Linked DNA regions of Homo sapiens: region 1 is linked to region 2. A link means that fine-mapping ties the variant in region 2 to the expression of a gene that starts in the linked region. Tissue or cell type: thyroid. Region 2 holds a variant in brackets; the other region holds the start of a gene. All regions are shown on one strand. Distances are from middle to middle.

Region 1 (8,122 bases), 51 kb before region 2:
CACTGACAAAGGTCCAACAAAGATCACAAGGCAAAGGGCAAAAGCAGAACCACTGATAAGGGTTGTGTTCAGCGGTGCATGTATTTTCTTGATAAACATCTTAAACAACAGAAAACGGGGTTGGAGAGCAGAGAACCAGTCTGACCACAAATTTACCAGGGTGGAGTTTTCCCAACCCTAGTAAGCCTGAGGGTTCTGCAGGAGACCAGGGCGTATCTCAGTCCTTATCTCAACGGCACAAGACAGACATTCCCAGAGCGGCCGTTTATAGACCTCCCGCCAGGAATGCATTCCTTTCCCAGGGTATTAATATTAATATTCCTTACTAGGAAAATAATTTAGTGATATCTCTCCTACTTGCACGTCCGTTTGTAGGCTCTCTGCAAGAAGAAAAATATGGCTCTTTTGGCCCGACTCCGCAGGCTGTCAGACCTTATGGTTGTCTTCCCTTGTTCCATAAAAATCGCTGTTATTCTGTTCTTTTTCAAGGTGCACTGATTTCGTATTGTTCAAACACATGTTTTACAATCAATTTGTACAGTTAACACAATTATCACAGTGGTCCTGAGGTTATGTACATCCTCAGCTTACGAACATAACAGGATTAAGATATTAAAGACAGGCATAAGAAATTATAAAAGTATTATTTGGGAACTGATAAATGTCCATATTAAGATGAAATCTTCACAATTTATGTTCCTCTGCCGCGGCTCCAGCCGGTCCCTCCATTCGGGGTCCTTGACTTCCCACAACATTAAACAATAACTCCTTATTCCCCACTGCCACCAGCCCCTGGCAACCACTATTCCACTTCCTGTCTCTGAATTTGACTACTTTAGGTACCTCATAAAGTGTAATTATACAGTATTTGGCCCTTCATCTCTGGCTTATTTTGCTTAGCATATTGTCTTCAAGGCTCATCCATATATTTACAGCATATCATAACTTCACTCTCCCCAGGAATTTTGCTCTGTCACCCAGGCTCTGGAGTGCAGTGGCAAGATCACAGTTCACTGCAGTCTCAACACCCAGGTGCAAGCAATCCTCCCATCTCAGTCTCCCCAGTAGCTGGGACGACAAGCACGTGCCACCTCACCTGGATACTTTTTAAGTTTTTTGTAGAGATGGGGGTCTCACTTTGTTGCCCAGTCTGGTCTTGAACTTCTACATTCAAGCAATCTTCCTACCTCGGCCTCCCAAAGTGCTGGGATCATAGGCATGAGCCACCTCACACAGCCATTTCATTCATTTTTTTTGAGACAGAGTTTCACTCTTGTTGCCCGGCTGGGGTGGAGTGGTGCAATCTTGCTTGGCTCACTGCAACCTCCTGGGTTCAAGTGATTTCCTGCCTCAGCCTCCCCAGTAGCTGGGACTACAGGTGTGTGCCACCATGCCCAGCTAATTTTTGTATTTTTAGTAGAGACGGGGTTTACTGTGTTGGCCAAGCTGGTCTCGAACTCCTGACCTTGAGTAATCTGTCCGCCTCAGGCTCCCAAAGTGCTGGGATTATAGGCGTGAGCCACTGCACCTGGCCCATTTCATTCCTTTTTCTTTTTTTTTCTTTCTTTTTTTTTGAGATAAACTCTCGCTCTGTCGCCCGGGCTGGACCACAATGGCGAGATCTTGGCTCACTGCAACCTCTGCCTCCTGGGTTCAAGAGATTCTCCTGCCTCGGTCTCCTGAGTAGCTGGGATTACAGGCGCCTGCCACTACGCCTGGCTAATTTTTGTATTTTTAGTAGAGATGGAGTTTCACCATGTTGACCAGGCTGGTCTTGAACTTTTGACCTCAGGTGATCCACCCTCCTCGGCCTCCCAAAGTGCTGGGATTACAGGCCTGAGCCACCACGCCCAGCCCATTTCATTCCTTTTTAAGGCTGAATAACATTCTGTTGTATGTATCTTCCACATTTTGTTTATCCATTCATTCACTGATGGACATTTGGGTTCTTTCCACCGTTTGGCTATTGTGAGTATGCTGCTATGAACATGGGTATACAAATATCTGTTAAAGTCCCTGCTTTCAATTCTTTTGGATATGTACCCAGAAGTAGAATTGCTGGATCACATAGTAATTCTATATTTAATTTTTTGAGGAACCTTCAACAGGGTTTTGATTTATTAGAAACAGGGTCTCCCTCTGTCACTGAGGCTGGGGTGCAGTAGTGCCATCATAGCTCACTGCAGCCTCAAACTCCTGGGCTCAAATGATCCTCCTGCCTTAGCAGGGTTATAATGTTTAATTTTTTTAGTATTTAATTTTCTTTTTTTTTTTTTTTGAGATGGAGTCTTGCTCTGTCGCCCAGGCTGGAGTGCAGTGGCCCAATCTCGGCTCACTGCAAGCTCCGCCTCCCGGGTTCATGCCATTCTCCTGCCTCAGCCTCCAAGTAGCTGGGACTACAGGCGCCTGCCACCACGCCTGGCTAATTTTTTTGTATTTTTAGTAGAGATGGGGTTTCACCGTGTTACCCAGGATGGTTTAAATCTCCTGACCTCGTGATCCGCCCAACTTGCCTCCCAAAGTGCTGGGATTATGGGCGTGAGCCACAGCGCCTGGCTCAGTCTTTACTTTTCATAACAGAAAACGTACCCTCTGCTTTTTATGGGGGTCTAACCATCTGAGTGCAGCTTGAGCTCAAGTGCTAAAGTCCATATTCAGGTTGGTCAGCAGCAGCAGTCTTGCTTGGAACCAAGAGATGGACCACCTGAATAGCATGACCTGGGTCAACGAGACAGAGCCTTAGGCCCAGAAATCTTTCCTGCTGTCAGGATAAATTAGTTTGTTTCACAAAGGGACTCTTGAAGATCAGAATTTCTGTATCTGTAAGACTTCTATGACTTAAAGAATTTCTGTACGTGTGAAATTATACTATTAGAAATACAAGATTGAAGAGTCTCCTTGTAAAAGCTAGTGTTAATGGCTAATAATCTAGCCAGGATTTAGAGATCAGGGAAAATGGGATTGAACTGTGTGGGCAAAGGAGATTAAGTAGCAGTGGAGGAGCTGAAAGGGGAATGGAAAAGTCGACGGACAGCTTCTACTTTACCATCTGTTTTATCAGCCTGGTAATCTGACGCCTGCCAGAACTATGTGGTCATGTGTTCCCTGCTTTGCCTCTTTCTCAGGATTTATAAACCCTTGTGGTGGGAGAATATGGAGCTGCATATATCTAGAGGGTTTTTTTATTTTTATCTTTTGAGACTGCACTTCACTCTTGCTGCCCAGGCTGGAGTGCAATGGCCTGATCTTGGCTCACTGCAACCTCTGCTTCCTGGGTCCAAGCGATTCTCCTGCCTCAGCCTCCCGAGTAGCTGGGATTACAGGCATGCGCCACCAGGCCCAGGTGATTTTCTTTTTAAATTTTCTATTTTTAGTAGAGATGGGGTTTCACCATGTTGGTCAGGCTGGTCTCTAACTCCTGACCTCAGGTGATCCGCCACCTCAGCCTCCCAAAGCGCTGAAATTGCAGGCGTGAGCCATCGCGCCTGGCTGAGGTTTATTTTTCAAAGAATGACCAAGAGGCTAGGTGTGGTGGCTCACAGTTGCAAATCCCAGCACTTTGGGAGGCCAAGGCGGACACATCACTTGAGGTCAGGAGTTTGAGAACAGCCTGTCCAACATGGTGAAACCCCATCTCTACTAAAAGTACAATTAGTGGGGCATGGTGGTGTGGCCTGTAATGGGAGGCTGAGACAGGAGAATTGCTTGAACCTGGGAGGCACAGGTTGCAGTGAGCCGAGATCGCACCACTGCACTCCAGCCTAGGCAACTGAGTGAGACTGTCTCAAAAAAGAAAAAAGACCAAAAACTCCATGAAACTACCATTCAATAAATAATCAATAAATAAGATGCAATTTCTCAAAGCTCAGTTTACAAAGAAGGAAATTTAATAAATGGTTGAAGATATACCCCCGACTGAACCCACAAGTTCTCTGAGTAGACTCATGGAATTCTAAAGAGTTGGTTGCTTGGAGACTGATAGAAACAGCTTTGGAACCTAAGAAACCAAGGAAGGCTTAAGATGCAGAACCTTGCTTCTCTCTGAGGACTGCCTTTTAGGAGGCCATTTGGAAAGTAATTTTGAAACACTGCTCCTTTGCCAGTATCTGAAAGGTGCTGGATGGTGTCAGCTGGAAGATGAGGGGCAACCTGAGGTAGCTGAAAAAACTTTGGATTAGGTGTCAAAAGGGTCAGTACTACTTTAGATACCAAGCAGTATGGTGATCTTAATGATTTCTCTTCTCTCTGGGCCCCAGTTTTGGGATTTATAAAATCAGGACATTAGGCCTGGTGCAGTGGCTCATGCCTGTATTCCCAGCATTTTGGGAGGCCAAGGTGGGAGGACTGTTTGAGTCCAGGAGTTCAAGACCAGCCTGAGCAACATAGTGAGACTCTATCTCTACAAAAAAAAAAAAAAAAAAAAAAATTTAACCGAGAGTGGTGTGCTATGTGCCTATGCTCCCAGCTATGTGGGAGGATTGCTTGAGCCCAGGAGGTCAAGGCTGCAGTGAGTCATGATCACGCCACTGTACTCCAGGAGAGTGAGACCCTGTCTCAAAAAAAAAAAAACAAATCAAGGCATTAGACCAGGTCATCTTTATAGCAGAGTTTCCAGAGTAATCTCTGGAGATAGCTGTATAGCTGTGTGAGTGCATGGTAAAAAATTAGAAAGTAGAGGGGAAAAAATGAGGGGAACTTTTTGAGGGCAAAAAGGGAGAAAGGGGGACTTGAAACAAGCCAGGTTAAGCAGCTGTTCCCTAATCCCACTCTCCCCACTAACCAGGCTTCCTTCATACACCCCACTGACACCCTTTGGGCTGTGCTTTCTTTAAATGTATTGTGTATTAAACCTGAGAGCTTGTGAAAATGCAGATTTCTAGGCCTCACTTGCAGGCTACTGAATCAGCATTCTGGGAGTAGGACACAAGAGTCTGATGTAAAAGGTTCTTTACCCATATCTATTCCAGGCATAGTCCCAGCATTTCTGGAGGCCAAGGCAGGAAGATCACTTGATTCCAGGAGTTTGAAACCAGCCTGGACAACATAGTAAGACCCTGTCTCTACAAAAAAAAGTTTTAAAACATTAGCCAGGCATGGTGGTGCACACCTGTGGTCCCAGCTACTGGGGACGCTGAGGCAGGAGGATTGCTTGAGCCTGGGAGGCAAGGCTGCAGTGAGCCATGACTGTGCCACCGCACTCCAGCTTGGGTGACAGAGTGAGGCCCTGTCTCAAACATAAATAAATAAACAAAAAACTGTATCTAACAAACACCACCCCAGAAGCTGACTGCACACTCTTGGACTCCACCTCAGAACTTCAGAATCCAAATCTGTTGGTAGAGATGAGAGTATTATTTTTTTAAAGCTTTCAGAAGATACTGATACTAAGGCTTATTGCTTTTTAGTCTTTTCTTTCAAGGCAGTTTCCTCTATTTTAATAACAAGGGAGAATGCAAGATATTACTCCTTTTAGCACATGTTACTCAACCTACTTTGACCACTTGTACAGGATAAAGGTATCAGACCAGAGGGTGAGGGTAAGCGACTGATAAGCAAACAGAAAAGTGGAACTAAATTTGGAATCTCTGAGATACTACCCAGTTTGAGTTGAGTTCTGTATTCATAAAATATTAGAGGCAGGAGAGGAATTTAGTCCAACTCCTACGTTTTCCAGCTGGGGATCTAGGAAGTTCATCAGGTTTTAACTAGAGGCATGTGGCCTAACCCTTCCAACCCCATTCCTCCCCTTCTAGCCCAAGTTCCTAGAAATGCAGATAATGCTGGTGGGTTGCTCATTCCAGGGCCTGGTCTGCAGTTATGCCAGGATTGACTTAGTCAATTTTTTATGCTGTCTATGTACAAAAGGACCCCGGACCTGCCACTCTGCTTTTGGTTCTAGAGGGCTATTTGTTGGGAGTGGGGTGCTGCCTCATAATGCTGGTCACGTAATGTGTAAGTTTCGATAATAAGGAGCCTCCAAACTCCATTAATAAGTCCTTTCTTTCTTCTCTAAGCACCCTCTCTTTTAATTGCTGAGTACCCCATAGCCCTAAATTCTTCCCGAAGCGCCCAGTGCATCTAACTGTAGGACCCAGAGACTTGCCTTCTAAGGACAACAGTCCATCCTCTAAACTAATAATAACAATTCCTCACACATATATTTTAGTTTGCAAAGAACTTTCATACGTTTCTAATTTTGAGGTTCATATCAATCAACACTAAATTAGAACAGGTATCAGACTCAATTTTCAGATTGGGAAACTACAGATTTCAAATTATTTGCCCAAGGTAACATGACTGGGAAGTGCACAATTTGGCCTTACACCTGTCCCGTGACTCCAAGACAGACAAAGACAAGCCAGAACAAGCCTCTTTTGATCAGACCTTGTGTAACATTTTGTTCTGTCCCCATTCCTTTTCAAAACAGACCTATCATGTGTTCCCTTCCTTCTTAATAAGCCATCATATCGGATGATAATAACTATTCCTTAAGTTTTTTTTGTTTTTTTTTTTTGAGAAGAAGTTTCACTCTTGTCACCCAGCCTGGAGTGCACTGGTGTGATCTTGGCTCACTGCAACCTCCGCCTCCTGGGTTCAAGCGATTCTCCTGCCTCAGCCTCCTGAGTAGCTGGGATTACGGGTGCCTGCCACCATGCCTGGCTAATTTTTTGTATTTTTAGTAGAGATGGGGTTTCGCCATGTTGGCCATGCTGCTCTTGAACTGCTGACCTCTGGTGATCTGCCTGCCTCAGCCTCCCAAAGTGTTGGGATTACAGGCGTGAGCCACCGCACCCAGCCTCCTTAAGAATTTCTAATAATTGATAATGGTAATATGGTATTCTTTCTGGGATGTTTGCATTGTAACTAAAGATTCTTTATGTCAAAGGCTAAAGGGCATTTATCTGCGGACACCCTAAATCACTCCTTTTTTTTTGAGATAGAGTTTTGCTCTTGTTATCCAGGCTGGAGTGCGGTGGCACGATCTCGGCTCGCTGCAACCTCTGCTTGTCAGGTTCAAGCAACTCTCCTGCCTCAGCCTCCCAAGTAGCTGGGATTACAGGTGTGTGCCACCATGCCTGGCTAATTTTGTATTTTTAGTAGAGATGGGGTTTCTCCATGTTGATCAGGCTGGCTGGTCTCGAACTCCTGACCTTGGGTGATCCACCCGCCTCAGCCTCCCAAAGTGCTGGGATTACAGGCGTGAGCCACCCACCTAGCCAATCACTCCTTATAGGTAGTCATCTGGGGATGAAATGAGTCCTCATCCCATTTTTCAACTGTTTAGGATCAAATTGCCCCCTGCCTTAGAAGCAAGATGTGGACACACTGATGTGTTAGGAATGTAAAATGTTTTAGAAGAATATGCAAGGCAGGAGAATATTAATGTTCTTTTCATTTGACCATTCATACTCAACCAGTGAGGAACTCCTCTTAACAAGAATCTTATAAGACAGGTCTGATGTCAAAATCTCTCACTTTTTTTTTTTTAACTAAGAATATCCTTATTTCTCTTTCATGTTTGAAGGCTGTTTTTGCTGAATATAATATTCTAGATTGGAAGTTTTTTTGCTTCAGCACTTTGTCACCCCACTCTCTGCTTGTAAAGTTTCTGCTGAGAAGTCTGCTACCAGCCATATTGGAGCTCCTTTATGATGTTATTAATATGTCCTTCTTTTCTCTTGCTGCTTTTAGGATCCTTTTTTAGCCTTGACCTTTGAGAGTTTGATTATTATATGCCTTGAGGTAGTCTTATTGAGGCTGAGTTGGCTTGGTGTTTTATGACCTTCTTATACCTGTATATTCATATCTTTCTCTAGTTTTAGAAAGTTCTCTGTTACTATTTCTTTAAATAAATTTTTACATTGATCTCTCCCTCTACATTCTTTTTTTTTAGTTTAATCATTTTTATTTCAAGTTTATTTAAAAAATCATAAATGGGGTTTCATAATCCAAAGTTGAAACATTTATTCTTCATAGCTTCAGAATTTGACAAGCAATTGTAGACCATGCTTTCCAAATCCAGTCTTCTTTGCTATTTTTCAAATTTCTGAGATCTAGTATTAAACTGCTCCATTCTAAACGTATAGTTTCAGATAAGTATTGTACACTTGTTGATAAGGGT
Region 2 (8,115 bases):
ACTCCTGGCCTCAAGTAATCCTCCCACCTTAACCTCCCAAACTGCTGGGATTACAGGCGTGAGCCACTGTGCCCAGCCAAGAGCCCATTCTTTTTTATTTTATTTTATTTATTTATTTATTTATTTATTTATTTATTTATTTATTTATTTTTGAGACAGAGTCTTGCTCTGTCACCCAGGCTGGAGTGCAGTGGCGCGATCTCTGCTCACTGCAACCTCCACCTCCCAGGTTCAAGCAATTCTCCTGCCCTAGTCTCCCGAGTAGCTGGGACTACATACAGGCGTGTGCCACCATGCCCAGCTCATTTTTTTGTATTTTTAGTAGAGATGGGGTTTCACCATGTTGGCCAGGCTGGTCTTGAACTCCTGACCTCAAGTGATCCACCCACCTCAGCCTCCCAAAGTGCTGGGATTACAGGCATGAGCCACCGCACCTGACAAAATCTTAAAATATGATTCACGGGCTTAGCTGTGCCACTCCTTGGGCAGTCAGCTAACCTCTCTGAGCTTCAAATTACCTATCTATAAAATGAGACTAGTGGTAGACAAAGGGATAACAAACCTTTCCCCTTCCTACTTGAGAATTTGAACTTCAGTTAAATGCCCACCTGTTCCCCTAAACACCTGATAAGAACTATCTTTATAGGCAACATTGGTTATGATATAAATCCTGTTTGATAAATTACATTGGGACTGAGAAGAGCTATAAGTGAAATATAAATACTTGATAGGGACACCATAGTTTGGGCCTCCCTGGATACTGTAACTTATAACAGGCAGGCCCTTTGTGGACCCTAGAATTGTGTCTATGGAGTTTTTATAAGAGATATTAGTTCCTGTAAAGCATAAATTCACCCAGTGAATAAACAACATGCTCCTGTGCTGTCCCCAAGACTCTGTGGAATGCTCAAGACAGCCTCAAGAACTGCAGCCAAAGCCAGGTGTGGTGGCTCACACTTGTAATTCCAGCACTTTGGAAGGCCAAGGCAGGTGGATCACCTGAAGTCAAGGGTTCAAGACCAGCCTGGCCAACATGGTGAAACCTCATCTCTACCAAAAATACAAAAATTAGCCAGGCGTGGTGACAGGTGCCTGTAGTCCCAGATACTCGGAAGGCTGAGGCAGAAGAATCGCCTGAACCCAGGAAGCAGAAGTTGCAGTGAGCCAAGATTGTGCCATTGTACTCCAGCCTGGGCAACAGAGCAAAAACTCTATCTCAAAAAAAAAACAAAAACAAAAACAAAAAAACTCCAGCCAACAGGGATGCCTGATGCTGCTGCCCTGTTGACAAACTATGCTCCTGTCCCATATTCTTCTGGTGCCATGCATGGCCCATGACAGTCTTATGAACCTTACTGTTTAGTTGAACCAAAAAAGACTCCCTAGTGAGCTCTACAATGATACCTACCTTGCCTAATTCAACCAAGGTTGAAAGATAACAAGATAATGTAAAAACACTATATTATAAAGCACTACCTAAATATAATTGTTCTTACAAATATAAAGGCTCAGCTGGGGGCGGTGGCACACGTCTGTAATCCCAGCACTTTGGGAGGCTGAGGCAGGTGGATCACAAGGTCAGGAGATCGAGACCATCCTGGCTAACACGGTGAAATCCCATCTCTACTAAGAATACTAAAAATTAGCTGGGTGCCTGTAGTCCCAGCTACTCGGGAGGCTGAGGCAGGAGAATGGTGTGAACCCAGGAGGCGGAGCTTGCAGTGAGCTGAGATCACACCACTGCACTCCAGCCCAGGTGACAGAACAAGACTCCGTCTCAAAAAATATATAAAATAAATAAATATATATATATATATATATATATATATATATATATATATATATATATATATATATATGGGCTCATGGGGCAAATTGGTTGCTTTTAATCACTAAAACTAATGGTGTAGTTCACTGTAGCCTAGCTGGAAACATTCTTCTTCGGCTTAAATATAGCTGTTTAGAGGCCAGATGATAAAGGATTGGGAATTGGCATACCAGCACACAGGTGAGCTTTAACACCTTGAGCAGAAAATCCTGCCCATCTGAAGGGCTCAGCTAAACTGTAATTATATTACATAGCACTAAGCAACTGCAGCTGGGACTGAGGTTGGCCACCACATGGCTGTAGGAAGGAAGCTGTGTGTGAGAAAAGCAAAGGGGCTAGTACTCTCTTACCTGGCTCTTTTGATCACAGACAAGACCATCCAGGACTTGCCGGAGGTTCTACTGCCTGCCCTAGAGGCTGCTCTTTGTGACAAGAATGCCCATGTGCGGATGGCAGCAGCAATATGCCAATATGCCATACAGTCACATAATCCCCTTGCCCGGAACATCATGCAGACTGCCCTTCTGAAGGGTGAGTAACTCCCTGTTACTTCTGACCTGGAAATATGGGATAGACATCTCACTATCAGCTTTCCCAGTCCTTTCCTCTCCACTGTGATGCTCTGCAATGTCTGCTGTATTGGGTTTAGATTTATGTTAGACCATTTGAAAATTAGGACCAGACACTGTCGCTCACACCTGTAATCCCAGCACTTTGGGAGGCCAAGGCGACAGGATCACCTGAGCATAGGAGTTCTAAACCAGCCTGGGCAACATAACAAGACCCCATCTCTATAAAAAATTTTAAAATTAGCCAGGTGCGGTGGTGTGCTCCTGTAGACCCAGCTACCTAGGAGGCTGAGGCAGACCTATATATACATGCTTATCAGAGTCAGCTTGAGCCCAGGGGGTTGAAGCTGCAATAAGCCACAATGGTGCCACTGTACTCCAACCTGGGTGACAGAGCAAGACCCTGTCTCTAAAAAAAAGGAAAAAAAGAAAATTTGCTCTTTCTAGGTACTTTAACAAAACAGGTACACTGCCACCAAGTGGTAGCTGGACTAAATTTTTTTTTTTTTTTTTTTTTTTTTTGAGACAGAGTTTCACTCTCGTTGCCCAGGCTGGAGTGCAATGGTGGGATCTCAGCTCACACTGCAACCTCCGCCTCCTGGGTTCAAGCAATTCTCCTGCCTCGGCTTCCCAAGTAGCTGGGATTACAGGCGCATGCCACCACGCCTGGCTGATTTTTGTATTTTTAGTAGAGATGGGGTTTTACCATGTTGGCCAGGCTGGTCTTGAACTCCTGACCTTAGGTGATCCGCCCACCTTGGCCTCCCAAAATGTGAGGACTACAGGTGTTAGCCACCGTGCCCAGCCAATATGATTCTTCTCAATATGGTTTAAATAAGAAATTGTATTTCTAGACTGAGTGGGGCACAAGGAAGTGAGATATCAGGTGGGGTAGCAGCCTTGGGTATCAATCCAAAGGCTGTTCTCTAGGGGGAAAACACATCACCATTCTGAACTCTTTTTCACCCAACTGTGGCAGGTAACAGTGTGGATAGCTGGGCTGCAGCTCAGTGCTTGGCTCTGGAAGGTACTGCTACTTACCCTGTGATTAAGAGGATCCTCCACCAGCTGTTTACAAAGAAGAATGAGGACACTGAGGAACAGTCTTATATCCTCCTGAGCTATCTGAGTGAGAAGACAGTATGTGTCCATTACCGGGTCAGACACAGTTTTGGGGAGCAATTAGGTCTTTGAGGTCAGTGAATGTAAGCAATCTGAAATGCAGCTGGGGCCGGGGCAGTGGCTTATGCCTGTAATCCCAACACTTCGGGAGGCCGAGGCAGGTGGATCACTTGAGGTCAGGAGTTCGAGACCAGACTGGCCAACATGGGTGAAACCTCATCTCTACTAAAAATAAAAAAATTAGACAGGTGCAGTGGTACCACACTGAGTAGTCCCAGCTACTCGGGAGGCTGAGGCATGAAAATCACTTCAGCCTGGGAGGTG[A/G]AGGTTGCAGTGAGCTGAGATCACGCCACTACACTCCAGCCTAGGTGACAGAGCAAGACTCTGTCTCAAACAAATAAAATAAAATGCAGCTGGGCTGGGCATGGTCGCTCACGCCTGTAATCCCAGCACTTTGGGAGGCTGAGGTGGGAGTATCCCTTGAGTCCAGGATTTCAAGACCAGCCTGGGCAATATAGTGAGACCCTGTCTCTACAAAAAAAGAAATAAAATTAGTCAGGCATGGTGGTATGTGCCTGTAATCCTAGCTACTCAAGAGGCTGAGGTGGGAGGATCACTTGAGCCTGGCAGGTTGGGGCTGCAGCGAGCTGAGATCACACCACTGTACTCCAGCCTGAGCGACAGAGCAAGACCCTGCCTCAAAAAATTAATTACACAATTAATTAATTAGATAAAATGCAGCCGGTTGGGTTGACAATCTCAAGCATAAGTAAACGTAGAATAAGCATGAGTAAACCTGGGTGTAGAGGTGTATACAAAGGGAAGTCACAATAGTTAGCTGAGAGAAAAGTGAGAATTAGGTTGCAAATGGTCTCTATTTGCATATGCAAGAAGAGTTCTGACATGTAGAATTTGCTTCTGCTAGAAGTTTACCATTGAAAACTGCAGAGGCCTATATTTGTGTTTAGTTACTTTCAATAGAAATGTGAAAGTCATAAGCTTGAGGCATATAAAAATCATTTTAGGGGTAAAAACAGTTAAAGACAGAAGGCCGGGCACGGTGGCTCACGCCTGTAATCCCAGCACTTTGGGAGGCCGAGGCAGGCAGATCACCTGAGGTCAGGAATTCAAGACCAGCCTGGCACCAACATGGTAAAACCCCGCCTCTACTAAAAATACAAAAATTAACCGGGCGTGGTGGCAGGCGCCTGTAATCCCAGCTACTTGGGAGGCTGAGGCAACAGAATCACTTGAACCCGAGAGGCGGAGGTTGCAGTGAGCCGAGATTGTGCCACTGCACTCCAGCCTGGGGGACAACCTTCTCAGAAAAAAAAAAAAAAAAAAAAACAGTTAAAGTCAGGAAAGGAAGGTCCCAGTTTTCTGTTTAAGTTATTAAATTTGTATTTTGTTCCCCAATTTATGATCCCAGAGTCAGTTGGCTGTGATGGAAACATGCCCCATCTCTTGTAAGCCCACTGGTGACATTAATTATGCAGGATGCCATTTCAGAATGTAACTTCAAGGTTCTAGTATCTCTAAAAGTGATTGTGAATATCCATACAAGTCTTCCATTTCCTCAGACCCTGATACACACCATGCTTGCTGTGGAGCTGAACAGCTGTCAATGGAAGAACCGGATTGTGGCCTGCCAGGCTTTCTCCCGGATCAGTGGAAATGTCTGCTTGGTAAACCTCTTTCTTTGCCTCCAGGACAGAAAGCCTAAGAGAGGCTGAGCTACAGAGGCCTTCTACTTTTTGCTGCTATGTATTATTCCATTCTTACCAAACAGATCTCTGTTCCCACATCACTACTTCTTACTTCTAGCCCAGAATTATCTTCAAATGCTAATATGTCTGTCTGGAAGCCAATGCTTCTCAGTGCACTGGTGGTCCATAAACTGTTGGTAACTGATCCACAATGAAATAGCACAAAAACTGACAGGAGTTTAGAAACGTTTATAGTAGGCCGGGTGCGGTGGCTCACATCTGTAATCCCAGCACTTGGGGAGGCCAAGGCAGGCGGATCACGAGGTCAGGAGTTGGAGACCAGCCTGACCAACATGGTGAAACTCCATCTCTACTAAAAATACAAAAATTAGCAGAGTGTGGTGGCACGCGCCTATAATCCCTGCTACTTGGGAGGCTGAGGCAGGAGAATCGCTTGAACCCAGGAGGCAGAGGTTGCAGTGAACCAAGATCTCACCACTGCTCTCTAGCCTGGGTGACAGAGGGAGACTCCATCTCAAAAAAAAAAAAAAAAAAGAAACGTTTATAGTAATTTGATATTGCCTCAATATCAACAGACTTTATCAGTCAATGACATATTTCCCCCCCGCCAAAATTGGTTCTTCATCAAAGATCATTCGAGAAGCACTGACTTAGACTACCCAAAAACCCATCTAAATGAGTGTCTGTGCTGCTTCTCAGAGTGTTCGGCACACACATATAAAACATAGTCCCGGCCGGGCACGGTGGCTCACACCTGTAATGCCAGCACTTTGGGAGGCCAAGGCAGGTGGATCAGAGCTCAGGAGTTTCAGACCAGCCTGGCCAACATAGTGAAATCCTATCTGTACTAAAATACAAAAATTAGCCAGGTGTGGTGGCTGGCACCTGTAATCCTAGCTACTTGGAAGGCTGAGGCACAAGAATTGCTTGAACCTGGGAGGGAGAGGTTGCAGTGAGCCGAGATCGCACCACTGCACTCCAGCCTGGGCGACAGTGCGAGACTCTGTCTCAAAAAACAAAACAAAAAAAAACAAAACAAAAAAACCATTGTCCCAACTTTCACAAAATTAACACTATGGTAGGAACAATAAGACTAATATACACAAATGATTCAAGAACAAGCAATAAATATAAGGTACCCTTTTAAAACTTTTCAGAGAGAGAGAGATTAGTGTGGGTTAAATTTATTGGTTAAAGTTCTGTGAAGGGGTCCGGTACGGTGGCTCATGCCTGTAAGCCCAGCACCTTGGGAGGCTGAGGCGGGTGGATCACTTGAGACCAGGAGGTTGAAACCAGCCTGGTCATCATGGCAAAACCCCATCTCTAATTAGCTGGGCATGGTGGCACACACCTGTCATCCCAGCTACTTGGAGGCTGAGGCAGGAGAATCGCTTAAACCTGGGAGGCGGCGGTTTCAGTGAGCCAAGATCGTGCCACTGCACTCCAGCCTGGGCGACAGAGCGAGACTCCATCTAAAAAAAAAAACAAACCAACTGTCGGTGAAGATGGTGGGGCTCAGCTAGAACTAAAGAGGGAATTCCAGGCAACACTTCGTTTTTGCCATTATTTCCCAATCATCTTCAGCTGTCCAAATGGGAGCTTTCCCTTCTTCCTATGTGCTACTTCATCTTTTCCTTATAACTTTGGATATCTCCAGAATAGCCCAGAACATTGCCATTCCCATGATAAGTGAACAACCTCCACTCTGTAACCCTGACATTTTGATATGGGAAGCACAAAATCTGGCCACTCAGTACAGTAATCACCTGAAAAGGTTTTGGACTTGGGTTAGTTCTGTCTCAAGTGCTATAGCACCCTGCTGCTAAAGTCCTGGACCAGCAGCACAGGCGTCACCTAGGAGCATTATTAGAAATGCAAAAATCGGCCGGGCACAGTGGCTCGCACCTGTAATCCCAGCACTTTGGGAGGCCAAGGAGGGCGGATCACGAGGTCAGGAGATCGAGACCATCCTGGCTAACACGGTGAAACCCTGTCTCTACTAAAAATAAAAAAAATTAGGCGGGTGTGGTGGCAGGCACCTGTAGTCCCAGCTCCTCGGGAGGCTGAGGCAGGAGAATGGCGTGATCCCAGGAGGTGGAGGTTGCAGTGAGTTGAGATCGCACCACTGCGCCCCAGCCTGGGCAACAGAGCGAGGCTCCGTCTCAAAAAAAAAAAAAAAATTAGCCAGGCTTGGTGGCACATGCCCATAATCCCAGCTACTCAGGAGGCTCAGGCAGGAGAGTCACTTGAACCCAGGAGGCGGAGGTTGCAGTGAGCCGAGATCGTGCCATTGCACTCCAGCCTGGGCAACAAGAGTGAAACTCCGTCTCAAAAAAAAAAAAAAAAAAGAAATGCAAAAATCTCATCTTAAGCCAGCTCAATCAGAATCTGCATCTTAACAATATCATTTTAACAACTTCCAATTCATTTGTACCTTCACCTCCTTGGCACTTGTCACTTAGAATTGACAACTGAAAGTAAAAAGACATGCAGAGCTAGCAGGGGTTGAGGTAAAGATGATGAGGACTTCATGGCAGATTGCTGGAGCTAAGAAAGGCAGTATGTCTATGAGTCTTTTCACTCATTCAGTAAGCATGCAGTTTCTGACCACATCCGACGCACTAGGCACTATGCTACCCCTGGGGGTGCAGGGATAAGTCTTCCGTTAGTAAATGTTACAAATAGCTAGAACAGAAGCAGCTATAAGGTGTTGTGGGGATTTCCTGTGCTTACAAGGGGCAAAGAAGACTTCACTAAGGAGATGTTTTTATTTTATTTTTTAAAATTTTTAATAAAAGAGATAGGAAGGAGATGCTTTTGAGGTAAATCCTAAAGGAAGACTACAAAGACATCAAGTACCAGGTAGGAG

The links. PIP is the estimated chance that this variant, and not a neighbour inherited with it, causes the effect.
Region 1: HEATR4 starts here. The variant in region 2 is fine-mapped to the expression of HEATR4 in thyroid (GTEx, PIP 0.91).

The regions. Positions count from the first base shown.
Region 1 is chr14:73,554,818-73,562,939 of GRCh38, reverse strand. It overlaps HEATR4 (HEAT repeat containing 4), which reads left to right and starts at 3,993. Exons shown (of 18, transcript NM_001220484.1): 1 at 3,993-4,189. RefSeq lists an enhancer at 2,992-3,161.
Region 2 is chr14:73,503,556-73,511,670 of GRCh38, reverse strand. It overlaps HEATR4 (HEAT repeat containing 4), which reads left to right. Exons shown (of 18, transcript NM_001220484.1): 8 at 2,198-2,359; 9 at 3,377-3,537; 10 at 5,100-5,204. It also overlaps a transcript of ACOT1 not described here. Among named protein-coding and RNA genes, the nearest start is that of RIOX1, 17 kb to the right of the region's middle. The variant A/G (reference allele first, on the strand shown) is at 3,844.